Linked DNA regions of Homo sapiens: region 1 is linked to region 2. A link means that fine-mapping ties the variant in region 2 to the expression of a gene that starts in the linked region. Tissue or cell type: spleen. Region 2 holds a variant in brackets; the other region holds the start of a gene. All regions are shown on one strand. Distances are between the middles of the regions.

Region 1 (2,679 bases), 79 kb before region 2:
GACTCTGCCCCGGGGCGCCGGGGCAAGGGGCGGGGTAAAGACGGCCCTCCCCTGGGCCACCGGCCGGCCTCCCTCCCCCGGGAGACTCACCGGGCCCAACGGGATGAGCGGGCGGGCCCCGCCCAGGCGGAACCAGCAGCCGCACAGCGCCCCGACCATGGCTGCCTCCGCAGCTCCGCGGGCCGCTCCGGCTCTAGGCGGCCAGGAGCGCGGCCATCTCGGCGCGCCTGCGCACTCCGCAGCCGCGGGCCTGCAACCCAGTTACCGAGTCGTCTGCGTGGAGGGGGTGCTGGGGGCAGAGCCCCAGCGCTCTCTGGCCCGCTCCCCGCCCAGATTTTCGGAACTGTTTTTGGCTTGAGAGCCGGCGGAGAGCCATGTGGCTTCTTCTCAGTGGAACATCTCCACCCTGGCTCAGTTCTCTGGCCTGTATAATGGAGTTAAGGATAAAACCCACCGCACAGGGTTGTCCTAGGTTCTTAAGGACGGGTCAAGCCTCAGAACAGTGTCCGGAGCAGAGGCCTCGTTGTGTAAATGCCAGATATTGTTATGCAGCAGCTCCAGGTCTTGGCCGACCCACTTTCCTGACTCCTACCCACTCCTCCCCACCCCCTCCCCGACGCACACCCACGGTCAGAGCCTGGGCTGGCCCTGGGCTCGTTCACGTCTACTCATGGCGCCTGCCCTGGTTGGCGATGTGTTACCAACGTCTGGCCTGTCCCAGCCCAAGGCTCCGCGTGGCGACCAGGCCCAGCACTGGGAGGCTGTGCAGAGCGTGGCGTTTACTGCTTATTGCTACTCTGCAGAGGTTGGCAACATCTGACCCGCTCTACTGGCAGGAAACAGGCTCGGGGGCATTGGGAAAACGATCAAGGCCACTTGGCTGGACACTGGCGGAGCCTCGCACTCAAACCTGTCGGGCCTCAACTCCGTGCCAGGCCAACAAGTTGCCCTGGGCAGTTCAAGCTGGGGATAAGGGGGATGGGGAGCAGGAAGACAGCAGCAAGGATGCGATCCCGAAGGAACTTTCCTCCTCAGACTGCTCCATGTCCATGTGGGGCAGGTCGCTGAAGAGTTCGAAACCGTGCTCAGCACCGCGTTTGGGGCATGTGAGACCGAGAGGCTTTGGGAAACTGACGCCGCTGTGAGAACGAGTTTAGCGGAGTCTATGGACGCTGCGAGCTTGTGGCCACAAGAGGGCGCCCCGGAGCACGGCCCAGTCCCCGCCCCCGCTGGATGGGGCCCGGCCTCTTCCCAGCGTTCCTCCTCCGGCCCCAGGTCACCGCCAGCACGCGCCTGCTTCCCGTCTGCGCGAGTCCACGCAGCTCCCCAGGTACCCGCCCTGCACTCCTGACCCTTTCTTCTCTCCAGTCAAAATCCAACCCCACCTACCCCAAGTCTTCCTTTCTCGGATCCCTGGGTCCCCTCCTTGGGAGTTGCCACCATTCCCTCCCGGTGCTCCCTTCCAGAGCTAGCGAGCCAGAACCGTAGTCCGCGGAAGCAACCTGACCGCGAGGTCAACGCGTTGGGCCCCAGGTGGCAGCGCGTTGAGCACCCCGCATCCCCGGCGGGTCGCCTTTCCCACTGGGCGCTTCGGTTTCCGCCTCTAGAAAATGGGCTTTCCGGTGTGGAAGCGCGCCTGTGGTTCCAGCTACTGGGGGTGAGCCGGGAGGATCACTTGAGCCCAGGAAGGTCAAGGCTGCAGTGATCCATGATTGCGCCACTGCACTCCAGCCTGGACGACAGAGCGAGACATCTTCTCTTAAAAAAAAAAAAAAGAAAAAAAAAAAAACCGAAGAAAATGGGCTTTTAGTTCCGGCGCGGTGGCTCACGCCTGTAATCCCAGCACTTTGGGAGGCCAAGGTGGGTGGATCACTTGAGGTCAGGAGTTCCGGACCAGCTCGGCCAACATGATGAAACCCCGTTTCTACTAAAAATATAAAAATTAGGCCGTGCACGGTGGCTCACGCCTGTAATCCCAGCACTTTGGGAGGCTGAGGCGGGCGGATCACGAGGTCAGGAGATCGAGACCACCCTGGCTAACACGGCGAAACCCCGTCTGTACTAAAAAAAAAAAAACAAAAAATTAGCCGGGCGTGGTGGCGCGTGCCTGTAGTCCCAGCTACCCGGGAGGCTGAGGCAGGAGAATGGCGTGAACCCGGGAGGCGGAGCTTGCAGTGAGCGGAGATGTGCCATTGCACTCCAGCCTGGGCGACAGAGCGAGACTCCGTCTCAAAAAAAAAAAAAAAAAAATTAGCCAGGCATGGTGACGCACGCCTGTAAACCCAGCTACTCGGGAGGCTGAGGCAGGAGAATCGCTTGAACCCAGGAGGTGGAGGTTGCAGTGAGCCGAGATCATGCCACTGCACTCCATTCTGGGCAACAAGAGTGAAACTCTGTCCCAAAATAAATAAATAGAATAAAATAAAATAAAATGGGCTTTTTACCCCAATTTGGGCTCCCTCTGGCCTGCATTGACAACTCATGACCTGTAACTTACCGTTGATTGAGCACTGAGCCCTTACTACGTGCTAGGCATGGTACATGCATGGCCTTATTTAATCCTATCAACCACCTATGAGCTAGTACTATTGAATTATCCCCATTTATAGAAAAGGATAATAACGATGAGAATAAGAACAGTAATTGTAATGGAGCCCCACCACATATTGAGGTTTTACA
Region 2 (2,679 bases):
CGCGCGTGTTTGAGCTTGTGCATGTATATGTGCTTGTAAATTAAGATTTAAAATGTGAAAGTTAAGAAAAATGATGATAGGGAAGAGATGTAAGTTTGAACTTTGGGGTGGAGGAACTTTTAATACTATGACATGTTGACGGAAAGAAAAAAGAGTTGAACTCTGCAAAATATTTGAAGAGATTTATTCTGAGCCAAGTATGAGTGACCATGGTCCATGACACAGCCCTCAGGAAGTCCTGAGAACATGTGCCCAAGGTGGTCCAGGCACAGCTTGGTTTCATACAAATTAGAGAGGTATGGGACATCAATCAAATACATTTAAGAAATACATTGGTTTGGTCCAGAAAGGTGGGAAAACTCGTAGTGGTGGCTGGGGAGAGGGCAGTGTTTCCAGGCTACAGGTGAATTTATACATCTTTTGACTGACAATTGGTTGAGTTTGTCTAAAGACCTGAGATTCATAGAAAGGGAACATTTGGGTTAAGATAAAAGATTGTGGAGACCAAAGTTCTTTTGAAGTCTTGTAGTGTCTCCCCTTAGAGACAACAGAGGACAAATGTTTCCTATTCAGATGTTAGTTAATCTCTTTAGGATTGAGAGGGTCTGGAAGAAAAAGATCTAGCTATGTTAATAGAGACTCAGATGCAAATTTTCCTCCACAAAGAACAGCTTTGCAGGGCCATTTCAAAATATGGCAGAGAAACATGTTTTGGGATAAAATATTTTTCTTCCTTGTCTGGTAATGTTATGCCAGGGTCAGGTTTGAAAATCAGTCACAATATATAGGGTTAAATAAAACCCATCTGATGAGAAGTTATGATTTGTGGGGCATGACTCCCCAGACCCCTTAGATAGGAATTTGGGCAACATAGAAAAAATCAGGGTTTAGTCTTCAGACATGACAGAGGGAGAGAACAGGCTGTGGCTATGAACGGTTGTCAGGGATGAGAAGGCAGGGCCGGCAAAGGATGTGACTTCTCCAGTAGGTGGAAGGGGTCTGAAAGAAAGGATCAGGCCTGGGTGGAACATGGTAACCCTTTGACCCTATATCACAGTGTTCTTGCTGGTCAACAAGGTCCATGGAAAACTGGGTGAGGTAGCCAGGGCAGGTGTGCCCCAAGATGGGGAGGACACTGAGACCCAGGGGCAAGTTGTTGTGCTTGTGGCTATCAACCAGAGGATGGCAGAGGCAGGACATCTACCTGATCTTCTGGTTCCAGCCAGTGCCCTGCCCAGTGCTCCTGAATTCCAGAAAAAGAGACAGTTGCTGATAGGGAATCAGGGCCTTTCCTGGCACACCCCAGAGCTGAAGCCAGTGGGGAGCATTCTCTGAAGGTCCCTCTTTTTTTCTTGAAAGCCCCCAGAAAACCAAAAGAAGCTCTCTGACAAAGATACGGTAGCCACCAAGATCCAGGCCTGGTGGCGGGGCACCCTGGTGCGTCGGGCACTGTTGCACGCAGCCCTCAGTGCCTGCATCATTCAGTGCTGGTGGCGGCTGATACTGTCCAAGATTCTGAAGAAGAGGC[G/A]GCAGGCAGCGCTAGAGGCCTTCTCCCGGAAGGAGTGGGCAGCAGTCACACTGCAGTCCCAGGCCCGCATGTGGCGCATCCGCAGACGCTATTGCCAGGTGCTCAATGCTGTTCGCATCATCCAGGCTTACTGGAGGTGCCGCTCCTGTGCTTCCCGGGGGTTCATCAAGGGCCAGTACAGAGTCACAGCCAACCAGCTGCATCTCCAGCTGGAGATCTTGCTGGACTCAGGGCCTTGCATTGTGACAGAGTGTATTCCCTTCTCAATAAAGGAATGAAGTGGTCTTTTCCAGATAGTCTCTGACAAGCTTCAGGTCAGAGCAATGGATGGCAGATACCTGGCATTTGATATACCAGCTCTGAGGAATGGGCAGGGCTTGTCTGAGGCCTCATGTGGAGCAGGACTCTGAGCCTCTTTTCTAGACTGAGCAGAGACTGTGATTGATTAGCAATGTGTGCCGTAGGAAGGAAAGTTGGGGGTACAGACCAGTCAATTGGCCAACTCCATGGAGCATCATTCGTATTTACATCATTCTGTGTACATAGTGCACCCTCCCTAGGACTTGGTATAATGGAAGCCTGGCGGGTGGTGGTCATGGCAATGGCAACACATTCTCCAGGAATTCACTCGTCTGGGTCTAGTTGCTCAGGGCTTGTTCCCCAACCCCTAGGACTGAGAGGAGCCCCCCAACCCCAAGCCCTGTGATCTTGTCTCCCTGCTGCACTGGGGGCTATGTCCTTATACTTGGCTTCTAAGAATCTGAGACCCAAACTGGAAGCTGTTAGCATAACTCAAGTCCTCATCCTAACCCCAAACCCCAACTGTCCCTTGCCCTCGAGCCCCGTATGAAAACTAGGACTCATTTTCCTCCAGACCAGGCTGGTATGGGAGGTTCCACAGGCAAGGGGGTGGGAGAGAGGGCATTTTGCTGCCAACCCAACCCTCTGGTGAGTGTTAGACCTCAGGCTATCACAGCTGCAGGAGCTGAGGAGGCATTAGTTTTGTGTTCCTTACCCTCCCCACTGGCCCAACTTCTGCAAGGGCCAATCCAGGCAGAGCTGGCTCCTCTGAAAGTCCCTCCCTGTGAAATGCTGCCAGCTGGGGTGGGGTTGGGGCCCAGGTGATGATAAGGGCCAAATAAGAGGTGAAG

Evidence for each region. PIP is the estimated chance that this variant, and not a neighbour inherited with it, causes the effect.
Region 1: it holds the start of ABHD14B, and the variant in region 2 is fine-mapped to the expression of ABHD14B in spleen (GTEx, PIP 0.92).

The regions. Positions count from the first base shown.
Region 1 is chr3:51,972,616-51,975,294 of GRCh38, reverse strand. ABHD14B (abhydrolase domain containing 14B) reads left to right here and starts at 1,246. Exons shown (of 4, transcript NM_001146314.2): 1 at 1,246-1,330. ABHD14A-ACY1 (ABHD14A-ACY1 readthrough) reads right to left here and starts at 231. Exons shown (of 17, transcript NM_001316331.2): 1 at 91-231. It overlaps ABHD14A (abhydrolase domain containing 14A), which reads right to left and starts at 231. Exons shown (of 5, transcript NM_015407.5): 1 at 91-231. The coding sequence starts at 159. RefSeq lists silencers at 1-307, 1,138-1,307, 1,528-1,677 and enhancers at 908-1,087, 1,121-2,057.
Region 2 is chr3:51,894,017-51,896,695 of GRCh38, reverse strand. IQCF1 (IQ motif containing F1) reads left to right here. Exons shown (of 4, transcript NM_152397.3): 4 at 1,360-1,820. The coding sequence ends at 1,806. Among named protein-coding and RNA genes, the nearest start is that of IQCF1, 8.0 kb to the left of the region's middle. The variant G/A (reference allele first, on the strand shown) is at 1,529.